2 separate regions of the Homo sapiens genome follow, and region 2 is linked to region 1. The links come from fine-mapping of genetic effects on gene expression. A gene starts in region 1. The other region holds a variant in brackets. All regions are shown on one strand. Distances are between the middles of the regions.

What was found.
Region 2: its variant is fine-mapped to the expression of GIGYF2 in whole blood (TOPMed, PIP above 0.99).

The regions. Positions count from the first base shown.
Region 1 is chr2:232,693,538-232,701,871 of GRCh38, forward strand. GIGYF2 (GRB10 interacting GYF protein 2) reads left to right here and starts at 3,794. Exons shown (of 29, transcript NM_001103146.3): 1 at 3,794-3,855. RefSeq lists enhancers at 3,601-4,297, 4,298-4,992 and silencers at 3,647-3,736, 3,767-4,096.
Region 2 is chr2:232,833,677-232,842,010 of GRCh38, forward strand. It overlaps GIGYF2 (GRB10 interacting GYF protein 2), which reads left to right. Exons shown (of 29, transcript NM_001103146.3): 23 at 6,173-6,295. Among named protein-coding and RNA genes, the nearest start is that of SNORC, 32 kb to the right of the region's middle. The variant G/A (reference allele first, on the strand shown) is at 4,610.

The sequences.
Region 1 (8,334 bases):
TCACTGCAGCCCTGACCTCCCAGGCTCAAGCAATCCTCCCGCCTCAGCCTCCCAACGTGCTGGGATTACAGGTGTGAGCCACCTCGCCTAGCTATGTGCTCATAACAAATTAAACTTGTTTTGGATTAAACTCCTTACCCTCCTCCCATCCTCAAATGATCTATTATTCTCAACTTCTGTTTCTATCAGTGGTGTACTACGGCTAAAACTTTATTATCCCTGACAAAAGCATGCATCAGTCTACGTTGTAATTTAATACCACTATTTAGTGAAACACTGGAAAGACAGAGTTACTAAAAGGAGAAAAGGAAAGCACCCTTCCTGAAGAGTAGATAATCAAGAATCGATTGGGTTTTATTGGTGTTTGTTGAGCATTTACTGTGTGTCAGGGCAATACCAGCTGCAGAGGTTGCTGGATGGAATAATGCAGCACTCACAATGGTTAAAAGCTGGGATTTTCTCCAGCTTTTTTTTTTTTTTTTTTTTTTGAGACAGGGTCTCACTCTATCACCCAGGCTGGAGTGCAGTGGCACACAATCTCAGTTCACTGTAACCTCTGCTTCCCAGGCTCGAGTGATCCTCCCACCTCAGCCTCCCAAGTAGCTGGAACTACAGTTCTACATTATCATGCTCAGCTACTTTTTTTTGTATTTTTAGTAGAGATGGGGTTTCACCATGTTGGCCAGGCTGGTCTTGAACTCCTGAACTCAGGTGATCTGACTGCCTCAGCCTCCCAAAGTGCTGGTATTACAGGCGTGAGCCATCGTGCCTGGCCACTTGTATATATTTGTCTCAAGTTGCAGAACTGTGCACTAAAAGTGCTAAATTTTATTGTGTGCAAATTATATCTTAATTTAAAAAATATATGTATAGGCAATGTACAGGTGGCATGGCATCAGAGAGGTGGCATGACAAGTTGGTTAGGGACATGGGTTCTACAATTTGCCAGCCTGGGCTTGGAAATCCTGGTTGAGATTTGGATATGGTAAGCACTTCTCTCAGAAGCCTGGTTGGATTGCTCCATAGCGCTCTTACTAGGATCACATGAGACAGTGCAAGGAAAGTTTTTAATGGGGTGGTCAGTACATAACAAGTATTAGTATTACTTTTTTCCTTAAAAATAACAGCTCAAGGGGTAAATTCTTTGGTCTAATGGAGGCACAGAGGCAGTAACACATGGACTGGCAGGAGTTGCAGGTTGGGGAGAAGTGGGTAAGTGTTGGGAACGGCATTGCAGCAGGATGGAACAGCATGTGCAAAGGCTAAAACATAATGTCATGTTTACGAATCTTTTAACATGGGCCTATCTGGAGCACTTAGTTCAGGGGGAAGATCAAGGAGAAGAGAACAACATGGATGATGGGTAGAGTTCTTTTTGATTGTTTGTTTTAGATACAGGGTCTTGCTCTTTTGCCCAGGCTGGAGTGCAGTGGCATGATCATAGCTCATTGTAGCTTTGTATTCCTGGGCTGGTGATCCTCAGCCTCCCAAGTAGCTAGGACTGCAGGTGCACGCCACCACGCCTGGCTAATTATTATGTATTTATTTTTTTTTAGAAATGGGATCTCTCTATGTTTTCCCAAGCTATGGGGGTAGAATTCTGCAGAATGGGACTGTGAAGGGCTCCTTTGAGTTTCTGTATTTCTAACAAGTCTCCACGTGATGTTGATGCTACTGTACCACTTTGAGCGGTAAGGGTATAAAAGTCAAGGGAAGAAAGTGTTTCAGAAGGCCGGGAGCGGTGGCTCATGTCTGTAATCCCAGCACTTTGGGAGGCCGAGGTGGGCGGATCACCTGAGGTCGGGAGTTCAAGACCAGCCTGATCAATATGGAGAAACCCCGTCTCTACTAAAAATACAAAATTAGCCGGGCGTGGTGGCATATGCCTGTAATCTCAGTTACTTGGGAGGGTGAGGCAGGAGAATCGCTTGAACCTGGGAGGCGGAGGTTGCGGTGAGCGGAGATCACGCCATTGCACTCCAGCCTGGGCAACAAGAGCGAAACTGTCTCAAAAATAAATAAATAAATAAATAAAGTGTTTCAGAAAGTAGGAAGAGGCCAATCATATTGAAGACAGGGAAACACGAAGTCAAGATGAGGACTGAAAGACTCCAGTTATCAACCTGTAGGATGGGGTGTTCTTAGGGCAAGCAATAGGCAGATAGGAAAGGACAGAAGCCACATCGGTGTGGTTGATGATTGCATGCCAGGTGTGGAAATGGAGAAAGTGCATATAAACAATTCTTTGGTGCAGCTTGGCTTTGAAAGGGAACAGGGTCGCAGGAGGGAGAATTGGTGTTTTTGATTGTTTGTTTGTTTATTTGTTTTTTTCGAGACGGATTTTCACTCTTGTTGCCCAGGCTGGCGTGCAGTGGCGCGATCTTGGCTCACCGCAATCTCAGCATCCCGGGTTCAAGCGATTCTCCTGCCTCAGCTACCCAAGTAGCTGGGATTACAGGCATGCGCCACCACGCTCGGCTAATTTTGTATTTTTAGTAGAGACGGGGTTTCTCCATGTTGGTCAGGCTGGTCTCAAACTCCCAACCTCAGGTGATCCGCCGCCTCGGCCTCCCAAAGTGCTGGGATTACAGGCGTGAGCCACTGCCCGGCCGAGAATTGGAGGTTTTTGTTTTTGTTTTAGACGGAGTCTTGCTCTGTCGCCAGGCTGGAGTGCAGTGGCGCGATATCGGCTCACTGCAACGTCTGCCTCCCCAGTTCAAGCGATTCTCCTGCCTCAGCCTCCCGACTAGCTGCGACTGCAGGTGCGTGCCACCACGCCCGGCTACATTTTTTTTTGTATTTTTAGTAGAGACGGGATTTCACCGTGTTAGCCAGGATGGTCTGGTCTCGATCTCCTGACCTCGTGATCCGCCCACCTCCGCCTCCCAAAGTGCTGAGATTACAGGTGTGAGCCACTGCGCCCGGCATGAGAATTGGAGTTTTTAACATTCCATTTTAAGATGGGAGACACAAGTAATCTTTAAAGCTGACAGGAAGGATCCTGTAGGAAGGAAGAAGTTGGAGACACAGGCAAGAATGGGATGCCTAAGGATAGAGTTGCTAGATTTAGCAAACACAGGACGCCCAATTAAATTTGAATTTCAGAAAAACAACGAACAATTTTTCAGTGTGTGCCCCAAATATTGCTGGGTGTCTTGTATTTTATCTGTCAATTCCAAAATAGTTCATCTCTAGGTAAAAGGGTTATAGCCCCAGATGTCCTAGGAAGGAATCAGAGCTCTCAAGTCCTTTCCAGCTGTCCCAGTACAACACTCTGAAATGAATTCCCAGTTCTACCAGAACTGTTAACAAGTAGAGAAACTGCTTTGAATTTCAGCTTTTGCGGCTTTCCCATTCGCTCTAGGATGGCAACTGCGAAGAAAAATGCCGGACTAAAAGCTGTGGAAAAGTTCTAATTTGGAAAACCAGCCCGCAAGTGATGCAGAGGCTTTTGAACTGCAAAAGAGCTCTGGGCGTACAGGACAGTGAGTCACACGGTGCCTGGTCCGGGCCCAACCCTGGACACCAACACCACTCAACTCAAGGGCAGGTACCCGGCTGCTGCCAAGGGGTCAGCGGGAGCCTGCGCACTGCCACGGCCCCGCCCTCTTCCAACCTTTCATCCGGGTCTCGGGCAGGGGCGTGTCTGGGCAGAGGGGCGGGTGGTGGCGGAAAGGAAGGATGTCGTGGGAGACTGGAGAGTGGGGAGGGAAGCGGGAAGGGGCGGGGGCGGAGCAGGGGGCGTGGCGGAGCGGGAGCGCGGTCACGTGACGTGCGTGGCGACGTGTCGGCCATCTTGTGTTGTTGAGGCTGAGGACTGACTGGGGTTCTGAGACTCCCTGTCCCGGACCGCAGGTAACCAGCCGTTCCGTGTCGCTCCCCTGCCCGGCTCTGCTCCGCGCCCCGGCCCCGCCGCCGCGTCCCGGGCCGCCTGTGTCTCCGGTCCGCGTTCGCGCCCCTGCTCCTCCTGCCCGAGCTGGCCCGGCCGCATGGACACCCACAGGCCGCTCCGGCCGGCTTGGGCCGTCAGGCGACGGGACAGGTCAGGTGCAGGGCCGGAGGGAGCCTCCTCCTGGGCGAGGGGCGCTGAGGGCCCTGGCGCGTCACGGCCGCGAGGAGCCGAGAAGCCCCTAGGCCAGGGCCTCTTGGCATTGCGAGGGGAGCCGAACAAGGCAGGAGGGTTGTGGGGTGGGCAGTGTCAGGCCGGCTTGCTCGGAGCTGGAGGGCTCGCCTTCCTCTGCTTGCTTCTCCGCGCCAGACACCCGCCCAGTCTCGGGGTGGCCCGGTAACAGCTGCTGCGGCCAGACAGCTGCTCCTGCCGGCTCTCCTGTCCACACCTGGTCCCTGGGAGGTGCGCTCCTGCCTTCCCCACAGAGCATCTGGACGGAGGAGACTCCTTCCGTGGCGAGAGTACTGGGTCTGGACCAGGCCTGAGGCGAGGTGCAGCCACCATGATCGGAACCTTGGGACCGAGGCTGGGAAACTAGAGCCCATGGCAGCCTTGGGGACCCAAATGTTCACATCAGGTTGAAATGGGCATTATCCTTAAGTGTCAGTTTCCAAAAGCACTCTGAATACTTGTTTTGCGACTGAAACATAAATCAAGCGAACAGGGAATGGGGGCATGAAAGAAGCGGAGCGTATGACCGTGTTTGGGAAGCAATAACGTTGTTTTGCAGTTAATTATTTAGTACTGTGTTTTTTATTTTGTTGTTTTCGTTTTCCTGCAAGTCAAAGCACTTAAACACACGTAGTCTCTCTGTAAGAAAGGTAAGTATTCCAGTTTAACTTGCAAGAAATTGAGTATGGGGCTAGAAGCTGTGAACAGCTTCCTTTCTAGAGCTACATACATTGAATTAAGGCAGTTTTGATTCCCAATGTTGTGCCTGGGGAAGGTATTCTTTCTTTATATAGTATGTCCTTTTTAGAATCAAATGACTTCCTAGATTAGAAAAAAAAATTCTGTCATTCTTTCTGTACATTAATTTTGCTCCTTCTAATATTTGTAGCTTTGGCCTTATTTTGTCCATTTTGCCTAGAACACAAATACTTTCTCTTATTCATTGATGGTTTTACGTGTTTTACTAGTTGGTGTAGCAGTTTCTGATGTGCTCAAACTGGAATATGTACTTGGCTTTTACATCAGATGTTGACAACAGAAGAGGACACTAGAAAAGTATTTAAAAGTGGCACGTAACTGGAAAAATGTCACATGATGTTTCTTTCGAAATTTAACATCAAGGAATACACTGGTGATGGTAGTGCTTCACCAGAAAGGAGAGGGCTTCATGACTTTTTGGTACCTGACAGCATTTGAGACTCTTGAGGTTTGGGAGGGAGAAGGAACCATGTGCTTCCATTCATTTGTTTATTCATTCATACATTCATTTATTTGACAGATACCCTGTTGAGCACTTACTACACTGTTAAGTACTGGGAGCAAAACAGACCAAACAATTCCTGTCTGTATGGAATTCATTTCTAGACAGATAAATAGGTAAAATACTTGATGTAGTGGTAAGCGATGTGAAAGAAAAAAATGAGTCAGGGAGATAGAATAATAGGGGTTTGGGGAGGGGTTAATTTTAAGTGCCCTGAGAAGGCCTCATGGAGAAGCTAACACTGGAGGAAAAACCCAACAGAGGTGAAGGTGCTGTTTCTTTAGCTATACTGGGGTAAAAGTGCTCTAGGCTAGGGAGCAGCAAGAGCAAAGACCCGGAGACAAAAGCTTAGGAGCGATTCAGGAGTAGACTGGGAAAAGCATGGAGGCTAGCCTAGGCTGAGAGGCTAGGGTGAGTGGGAGACTGGTGGGAGATGTGTGTACTTACTGTTTGGTACTAAGATGAGATGGATTATTTGCTATCCTGAATTCTTTTTTCTTATCTCTTGTGATTCTTGGAAAGGGAAATCAGATTCTGGAAATTTGGGCCAGCAGCCAGCCTCCCCAACCCCCTTAACTCCCATCCCCATCCGCTAATTTGGAAAAATTTAGGATGCTCAGTATTTCAGGAAATTATAATGAATTATCTTTCTCAAAAGTAAACGTTTTAAAATGAGATTGATGATAAACTGCTTGAAAGTACTTTTCAAAAGCAATTGCTTTACAAGAAGGAGGCTCTTTGGAGATTTCAGGATATTTGAAAATGTAGGGAAATTAGAAATTTTCCTTTCACATTTAGACACATGATTAAGGAACATACCAGGAAGAAAGGTGGAAACAATGTATTAACTCAAATTATCCTTAATCTGGTTAGTAAAGAATTTTTCTTAATACTGTGCTGTCCAGCCCGGAGACTCTTCCTCTAATTCATGTGTATATCCTTCACATTTTACACGTGTAGAACTTTTTGTGCTGAGTTTTTTATTCCTCCACTTTTACCTTTCAGACTAGTTGTCTAGTCTGATACTTAATAGACATATTTTTTTGCAAAAAACATTTTCTGATTTCCTTCCAGTTTATCTCCATATTCTTTTTACTGAGCTTTCATAAATGTCCTCTTTCATTTTAGTTCAGCTGAGGAATTTTAATATTTTGGTTTTGAAATGCTTTTGCTGGTGAGATGCATATGTGAAAAACACTTTGGAGTAGGTTTGCCTCAAAATCATGAGAAGATGGAAATTACAAGGTCAGTGTGTGAATGCAACTCCTTGGCTAAAAGGGAGGCATAGTGATGGTAGTGATGAGGTAGTGTTTTAACTAATTGCCTTTCTTCCTCTTGTTTTTCTATTGTGTTTTTGAAATGACATTTCCAAATTATGTCTTTGATGTCATATCAGCTCATTTGTTTTCATGACTCTGCATTTTAATACTCCATATTGTCTCTTCTCTTTTTGTTGACCTTCACATTGGAAGATGACACTGTTGATAGTGATTGCTATCTGGGAGAACCTTTTTGGGTAAAAAGATTACTACTGTCGCTTTTATGATTGCCCTTCTGTAGGATCTTTGACTTGTGCCATTTTCAAATTTTGACTTTGTTTGCAGTTCTCCATTAGCTCCTGCTGATTAAATTTCCCATACTTTCTGTTTTATTCTATTTCTTATAGATTATAGTGGGACCAGTCTCATTAGGTTGAATCTACAGCCTATGTTGGTGTTAACCCAGGTCTCTTAGAGGCAAGTTAAATGTCCATTTTCCTTCAGTTTAAATTACCATGGCATATTGTTTGGTCATTGTTGTAACAGTCTGAACTCAAGCTTTTTTTCACTGCTTGATTCCCACTAGGGTTTTGTGGTGATAAAGTCCTATGGTTTTTGCATGGGAGAGTATTTAAGAATAAAAGGAAAAATATATAAAATGAAAAAGAAATAGAAGTTTAAAATAAGATAAAAAAGTCCTAGAGTTTCCATTCATTTTTAATACTTTGAAAAATTACATCTCTTTAAAACTAGAGATTTTTATTTCATGTATAAACTTGCTTATAGTTAGCATTGCAGTGTTTCTTGACCAAATATTGTTTTTACATTTTATTCATGCTCTCAGATGAATGAGAAATATACTAAATTAATTATGTAGGAATGTAAAGTGATACCTTTATTGAATTGCCTATAGTTTTGTGTGAGGTTGAAAGCAGAAAGAGGTTTGAAAAACAAAGAATGTTCTCTTAATTGACCAAACTTCATTTTATAAAGGTATTTCAAAGTATTACATACTTCCCTACTTTAAGTAAATAAGGAACACAATTTTATATTTTCTTGTTAACTATGGGGTTTCATTAAGCTTAATTATTATTATTATTTGAGATGGAATCTCACTGTGTTGCTCAGGCTACAGTGCAGCGGCCTGATCTTGGCTCACTACAGCCTGTGATAGAGCAAGACCCTGTCTCCTGGGGGTTTGGGGTTGCAGTGAGCCGTGATTGCACCGCTGCGCTCCAGCCTAGGTGATAGAGCAAGACTTTCTCCAAAAAAGACAGGGTCTTGCTCTGTCACCTAGGCTGGAGGGCAGCGGTGCAATCACCACTGACTGTAACCTCAATCTCCCAGGCTCAAGCCATCCTCCCACCTCAGCCTCCTAAGTAACTGGGATTATAGGTCCATGCCACCACATCTGGCCAATATTTTTTGTAGAGATGGGGTCTCACTATGTTGCCTAGGCTGGTCTTAAACCTCTGGTCTCAAGTGATACTCCCGCTTCAGCTTCCCAAAGTGTTGAGATTATAGGCATGAGCCACTGTGCCCCACCAAGAATGCAATTTGAGAAAGTCACATCCACTTCTGATTTAATTTTGCAAAAAAAGTAGCCATGTTATAATGTCCAAAGGTCATCCAACTTTACCCACTGAACTGTGTAATTTTTTAAGGGCAGGAGGAAAGGGAAGAAGAAATGGATA
Region 2 (8,334 bases), 140 kb after region 1:
CAGCGCTGCTGAGACAAACATAAATGAGACAAGGCAGTTGCTCCCAGAGAGCTCACCAACTTAAAAATATAGGCATGTAAACGTTCAGATGTGTAAATGGGAACTAGAATATAGGGCTTGAAACAGAGTTGGCCATAGGCATTTATTGAAAGTTACATTAAGAGGTGATATATACAAAGTGTTGTTTTAAAGAGGATTCAAAACTTTTTTTTTTTTTTTAATAAGGAGAAAGTAAATACTGGGAGCCTAGTAAAGAGGCTGTGTTGGTGCTGGTGTGAATGAATAGGAGAGGCCAGCAGGAGGGAGCTGGCCTGATAGCAGTCAGCAAGAATTAATTAGTCTCTGGAGCTGAGGGAGGAAGGCAGAAGCTGGGGTGCCTGCCAGATAAGTTTCAGTGACTGAGAAGATAGTGGAACTGTTGATGGAATTGGAGTAATTGGGAAGGGAGGAGCAGACTTATGGCAGGTTCTGCATAACTTCATGCTGGGTCTGCAGTGCGCAGTAAGGTTTAGTGTCCCCTATCTTCAAGTAGCTCACAGGTTAGACACATAAACAGGCAAGTAGAATACAGTATGGTGAGTATAGTGGGAGAGGTGGCATGGAGTCAGTCATTCTCAGAGTTCCGTCACTTGGGAACTTGTGAGATGTGCAGATTCGCACCCCAGACCTATTGAATCAGAACCTCTAAGGGTGGAACTGAGAAATCTTGTATTTAAACAAACCCATGCTCTCTAAAATGTGAGAACCACTGTCCATCTGGGAAGTTTGGAGAGGCTTCTTGAAAAAAGGTAACTTCCAAACTGAGTCTGGCTTTCAGCATTTTTACTATGACGTGTCTGTTTGTGGATCTCCTTGTGTTTAATCTACTCAGAATTCATGGTGCTTCCTGGATGTATAGATTAATGTTTTTCCATAAACTGGAGAAGTTTTTAGCCATTATTTCTTCAATTGTATGTTCTGTTCCTTTCTCTCTCTCCTTCAGGCACTTGAGTGATGCTTATGTTGATGCACTTCATGCACTTAATGGTGTCTCATTTCTCTAAGGCTCTCTTCAGTTTTCATGTTCTTCTCTCTATTCTTTGTGTAATCTGTATTGATCTATCTTTAAGTTTCTTTCTTTTGCCAGTTCAGATACACTATAGTGTACCTCTAGTGATTTTTTTTTTAACTAAAAGTTTTTTATATATATTTAGGGCATGCAAGTGTAGTTTTCTTAATAGCATATATTGCACAGTGGTGAAGTCCAGGCTTTTCGTGTACTTATCTCCTAAATAGTGAGCATTGTACCCAGTAGGTGATTGTTCAACCCTTACTCACCTCGTATTCTCCCAGCTTTGGGGGTCTCCAGTGTCCATTATTCCACTTTGTGTGCCTGTTTGTTTAGCCCCCACTTATAAGTGAGAACATGCAGTATTTGACTTTCTGTTTCTGGGTTACCTTACTTAGGACAATAGCCTCCAGTTCCATCTGTGTTGCTGTGAAAGACAAGATTTCATTCTTTTTTGTGGCTGAGTAGCATTCCATGCCTTATATAAACACCACATTTTCTTTATCCAATCCTCTGTTGATGGGCAGTTTTTAATTTCAGTTATTATACTTTGGTACTCCAGAATTTCCTTTTGGTTTTTTAAAAAATATCATCTATCTCTTTATCAATATTCTTTATTTGGTGTGACACTGTCATCATACCTTCCTTTACTACTTTAGTTATAGCTTCCTTAGGTTCCCTGAACAACTTTTATAACATATGCGAAGTCTTTGTGAAATCTGACATCTTGTTCACTCTCACAGGCAGTTTTTGTTGCCTGCTTTTTTCCCCAGTGTATGGGTTATACTTTCCTGTTTCTTGCATGTATCGTAATTTTTTATTGGCAGCTGGACTTTTTGATAATGTCTTCTAGCAACTCTGGGTATCTCCACCCGCCCTTCCCAGCTTGATTTTCTTACTTGTTTGTTTATTTGTTTTGTGACTGGATGGATTATTTTAGTGGAATCCAGTTCTCCCCTCCTCCCCCCGACCATGTTGAAGCCCTTGCTCTTGCCCATGTTGGGGATATAGCACTGGGTGTGCCCAGAGTGACTCCGAGGTGACCGTGGGTTTGGCAGGGCTCTCTTTGATTGTCTTTTCCACACCCAGCTGTTTCACTCCACTTATTGCTAGCTGATTGCTCTGTTGTTCTTAACCCATTTCCCGTTTGCCCTGAGAATATCCCTGGTGGTGCGTGTGGCTGCAGCGCTGACCCCGAGATAACTCTCGGATTACAGTCCTAACCTTACCCCTAAATGCTTTTCAGAGAATTATATCCAAACAGCACTGATGCAGTTAGGACAGCTTGTTGGAACAGAAAACAGATGCCAAATGATCTAGGAAAAAAAACCTGCGAGTTAGCCCTGGGTAAACGCTGCAGCTGCACATGCTGCCAGCAAATATTCTCGGGGCAGATGGGAAATGGGTTAAAATTGTCCTGGGCTGGGTGCAGTGGCTCACGCCTATAATCCCAGCACTTTGGGAGGCCGAGGCTGGTGGTTCGCTGGAGCTCAGGAATTCAGTACCAGCCTGGGCAACATGGTGAAACCCCATCTCTACATATATATATATATATATATATATATATATATATATATATATATATATATATATATATATATATATACATATATATACTTATATATTTATATATATAAATATAAATATATATAAATATAAATATATATAAATATAAATATATATATAAATAAATTATTCAGGCGTGGTGATGTGTGCCTGTGGTCCTAGCTACTCAGGAGGCTGAGGTGGGAAGATCACTTGAGCCTGGGAGACAGAGGTTATAGTGGGCCAAAATCATACCACTGCACTCCAGCCTGGGTGACGGAGTGAGACCCTGTCTCAAAAAAAAAAAAAAAAAAAAAATCCCTTGGGGCATACACTGACAGACTGATCCACTTAAATTCAGGTTTCTTTGAAGAAATAGCTCCTGAGGTCTATATATGAAATTTGTTTTGACTCCGGGAGGATTTCTTCTAGTTTTCTTTAACTAGTTTTCTCAGATAAGGTAGCAGCCTCCTACAGTTTAGCCTGTATCTCCTATGAATCTACCAGTCTCCTCCTAATTGCCTTTTATCCCAACTTCTACTGTTTCTGAAAACACCATTAGGCTTGAACTCATCCACTGTCTGTTGCAAATAAAGTCAGTTCCTTTGGGAAGAAACCTGGAGCTTTCTGTTTTCTACCTGTTTCCTACACCACTACCCTCAGACAAAAATCTCTCAGTCAGCTCTGGAAGTGGGCACAGTGGTCTGCTTTCCTCTAACATTTGCTGAAGGGTGGGCAGAATAGTAGCCTCAGGTATTCTTGGCTTGCCTCTCCTGATGGCTTGGCCCGGCCAGCTGCATTGGTGATCACGACCCTAGTGTTGGTGTTGCTGTGGTCAAGTTTCCATCCTATGAGTGGGGCTGGGCACAAGAAGAGAGCCTCCACATCTGTTGCACTTGTTTGGAACTTAGCATTTGTCACAGGTGACTGCCATCAGGGTGAGACACACCGATGTGCTTTTCCCAGGAAGAAAGCCTGCTGACTGATGGCTGAGGGGAGAAGGGAAGCCGTGTCTTGACTGTACCAGTCTAGAGTGGAGTTTCTGTCTCATTAAGCTGGGAGGAGAGAAGGAGAGTAGGTCTTGGTTTAAGTATCACCAACTCTTGCTGTTCTTACTGAGTTTTAGCAAATATTCTTGAATAAACTTTTTTTCATTTGCTGTATGCCCTTAGGAGTATTTCCAGAGACTTTATTTATTTTTTTGAGACAGGGTCTGGCTCTGTCGCCCAGGCTGGAGTGCAGTGACACGATCTCAGCTCACTGCAACCTCCGCCTCCTGAGTTCAAGCGATCCTCCTGGCCTCAGCCTCCTAAGTAGCTGGATTAAAGGTGTGCGTCACCACACCCAGCTACTTTTTTTTTTTATTTTTAGTAGAAATGGGATTTTGCCATGTTGGCCAGGCTGATGTCAAACTCCTGACCTCAAGTGATCCGCCTGCCTCGGCCTCCCAAAGTGCTGGGATTACAGGTGTGGGGCCCTGCTGCCAGCCAGAGAGTTTAAATGATTATTTTAAAAATGATCTTCACCAGTTTTGCCAGGGAGCAGGTCCACGCAGCTCCTCATGCTGTCATTCCGACAGTGAAACAGTTATTTCTTAAAGCAAAACCAGTGTTGAAATGTAAGGTAGCAATGTCAGCGCAGAACAAGAAGAGTATAGTTTTAAAAATCAATGAAGGACATTAGGCATTCGGGGGTCCCTATTTGCTTTTGATTTGTCAAAAGTTTGTTCTGAGAAGCATGATTGACACACTGCAGTTCTCCTGAGTGGGCATTATAGGGTGGGCTGGTAAGTGTCATGAGGCAATGTTGAAAGAGCTCTGGGATATTATTTCCGATGTACAAAGAAGACTTAAGGAAAATGAAAGCTATCAGCAGACATAAGTCTATATAAGGAAGACTTAACTTTGGTCTGTAGAACAGACCTATGAAATATAGAGTATATATTTTGTGTGTATATATACCTAGAGAAAGAGCGTGTGTATGTATATGTATATGTGTGTATGTGTGTGTGCATGT[G/A]TATATATATATATACACGCATATGTATGTGTGTGTATATAGAGAGAAATAGGGAGTCAGGCCAGGGAGGAGAGAGAAAATAAATATATTTTGGCACAGCAATAGGAAGATTCTCAGAGGTGCCCGTGAGGATAGATGGCCATTTCTGGAGGCACTGCCTCTATTCCCAGTGCTGGCTGAGTTCTGCTGAAGCGGGCTTGAAAGATTGTTTCCTGATTACCATGGGGTGACACATCTACTGTGATTTTAGACAACATCAGTGGTTACTGGCTGCATCAGAATGATTAAAATATGCTGATTCTCCTGCCTTCCCTTCTGATCTTCTGATTGATTAGGTGTGGTGGAGCCAGGGCCTCTACATTTTTATAGGTCCCTTCAGGTTATGCTGCCAGTTTGAGATCTACTGCCTTACTTGATCTTGATAGTGCCTTCAAATGAGTCATTTCCTGTGGAGACAAAGTTAATTTTTGCTCAGTTTTGCCTCTCAACACCTCCCTCCCCCAGTCTTTGTTAACTTCCCTCTGCACCCCTCCCCCACCCCAGGGCAGGTGCATTTTGAGAGAAATGCCCTATTGTCTGTCATATTGGCTAAAAAATGTTAAGAGTTGATTATGTTCAGTAGTGTTGAAGACATTCATTTGAAGAGTTGTTTGGCAGTATCAGTGATGGTTTAAACTGTTTATACCTTTTATCCTATCAATATCCACTGTTATAGATTTCTGCTGTAGGTCCATTCTTTTGGGGACTGTTTGGCATTTTATTTGTTTTGATCTATGTTCATGTATTATTTTTATTAAATACATTTTTTAAGTCTGGTTAGGTTTCTTTTTTATTGTGTTCGCTTGTTTGATGCCTCAGTATTAAAAGTGTGTCTTTTTCTGGCCAGGAAGAGCAAGGGGTTCTCTGAGAATAATCAGGCTTTGAGAATATTGAAATATTCAGGACCTAGATATTTATACTCTATTTTAGTCAATAATCTTAAGGGATGGGAAAAATAAAATTATTGATTAAAAGCAGCTTAATGCTCATGACTAGAAGCTACAGCCTGGTTAACAGTGGCTCCCTTTCATAAAGGCTGATCAAGAACTATGCCAGCATCTCTCATGAGATGAGAAATCTCATGGTGCTACCCTCAGAAATCGTGTCCTTAACACTTTCACTGGACAGCAGCATATCATGTCCTTTGTTGCTTTCGTCAATTAAAAAATCCTTAAGCCAATTTAGTGATTCTTTTGTTTACTCCTCTTTATGGTTGTATATTGCTGTTTATGTCAGTACCAGATGTAACAAATTTGTTGTCACCAAGAGGTAGATGAAATGTAAGTGTGTATGTGTATTATAAGTTGTTTTAAAATAAACTTAGGTTTGGAGCAGTGACAAAAACTTAAGCAAAAGAAGCTGAGAGGATAGTAAGTAAAAGCAATGAAGAAGGAAATTTGAATTGAATGTGGTAAATGGAGTTGAGAGAAATGCATTTGTTCTGGGTATACATAATGCATTATTGCTTCTTTGTTTCCTGTCCACATTTCCTCATGAACTTTCTGGCCTTCCCTTTTTTGTTAGCTTCCTTCTTCTTCAACGTGGGGCCAGCAGTCCAATACAACAGCATGTCAGTCCCAGGCCACGCTGTCGTTGGCTGAAATCCAAAAACTAGAGGAAGAACGAGAACGGCAGCTTCGAGAAGAGGTAAAATTTTAAAGTAAAAGGGATCTAGTCAAGCGATGTTCCAGAATATCTAGCATGCATTATGGGTTAGTGGTTACTGAGGACAATTACTGTCAGAATTGTTGTGTGTCTGAATTGGACGTTCATTATTAAACTTCAGCCCATAATTTGGTTACCCTAGCAAATGTGAAGGATCTCATAGGTATAACATGAAGATTGAGTAACATAACTGTTCAGTTTTCTTAAACATTTTACTGTAGTTCTTGAGAAGACCTCATAAATAAAACTACACGGGTTGTTCAAAATTGTGGGTGAGTTGTGTGCAGATAATCTTTTATAAGTCTGATGTCTAGAAAGCAGAATATGTTTTTCTCTAAAGACACTGGGTTCCCTGACTAGTCTAGAAAAATGTGACAGAAATAAAGTACCTCTGCTTTTAAGTGTATATCCTGTAGTTCATCATTAGGGTAGGAAGGATACAAAAGAGTATAAAAGGGAAGGGGAATAACACAGCTTTTGACAGAGAGGAGAAAATGAATAATTTTCATAGTTTGGTTCAGTATGCCATTCGGTGCTCATTCATTCATTCATTCATTCATTCATTCAACACATGTTTACTGAGTACCTACTCACTTAAGGTCTGGGGATATAGCTGAGTCTAAAACAGGCAAGATTTTCTGCATTCATGAAGCTGACCCTCTGATTGAGAAGAGAAAAGTAGAAAATGAAGCGTATGAGAGGTTGATAAGTGTCAGAGAGGTAACAAGGGAAGGTGGGTAGGGAGAGTGTTGGGAGTCAGGGATAATGATGGTGTGGTGGATTGTCCAAATTTAGGTAGTGTGTTCTGAGAAGGCCTCTGAAAAGGTGACATAATATAGCAGAGTCTTGAAGATGCTTTATGTGGATATGATTTGAGGTAGAGCAGTCAATTTGTTAGAGAATGTAAGTTGTCATTTTTGGATCTGGGTCATGTGGTTCACTGAAATTAGGAGGGCTTTGGATACACAAGGAGAAATAGAAATTGTCTATATGTGTTTACCAGGTAGTGTGCTTGAAGTCATCCAGTAAGATAAGATGTTTCTTCACACTTGAAGATGACCTTATTTCCCACCTTTATTTAAGAAAAAAAAAAAAAAGAATTGAACTTTCTCTGGAATCATCTTTCTCTAAAAGGTTATCAACAAATGGATGCAGAACAGAGTATGTCTCTCCCTTCAAAGCTAGAAATTATTCCACTAATTTTGGTCCCTACTGAATGAGAAGATAATAATAGTGGTAATGACAAGGAATCACAGGTCTTCTCCTGTCTACCAGAAGTTAATAATTATTTCATTCGTGTTTTCTTTTTCTTTTTTTTCTTTTAGAGACTGAGGCTCGCTCTGTCACCCAGGCAGGAGTGCAGTGGCGCGATCTCGGCTCACTGCAGCCTCCACCTCCTGAGTTCAAGTGATTCTCCTGCCTCAGCCTCCCGAGTAGCTGGGATTACAGGCACTTGCCACCACCACCAGCTATTTTTTTTTTTTTTTTTTTTTTTAAGTATTTTTAGTAGAGACGGAGTTTCACCATGTTGGCCAGGCTGGTTTCAAACTCCTGACCTCAAGTGATCCACCCGCCTCGGCCTCCCAAAGTGCTGGAATAACAGACATGAGCCACCGTGCCCTGCCTTCATTTGTATTTTCATTTAATTTTCTTGGAACTTTTAAGTCTCCCTGTACCCTTTATAAGGGTGCCTCTTAATACACATTTCACATATTTCTTACGTAGAAAAACCCAAGATGATTTTATTTCATTATCATCCCTGGAGGCATCCTTTCTGGGGGCCTCTAACCTGTTCCAATCAGGACACTCTCAGCTTGCTTTATAGCTGCTGTTTTGTTTTTCTTGAGTTCCTGTTATTTACATGTTTCTCCCAGGACTGATTTTGATTTTCTCATGTTTTTTCTCCTGTTTTCCATCTCTGTGCTTTTATCTTTTTTGATAAGATCTTGCTGTGTCTCCTGGGCTGGAATGTAGCTAGGACTACAGGTGTGTGCCACCATGCCTGGCTAATTTAAAAAAAA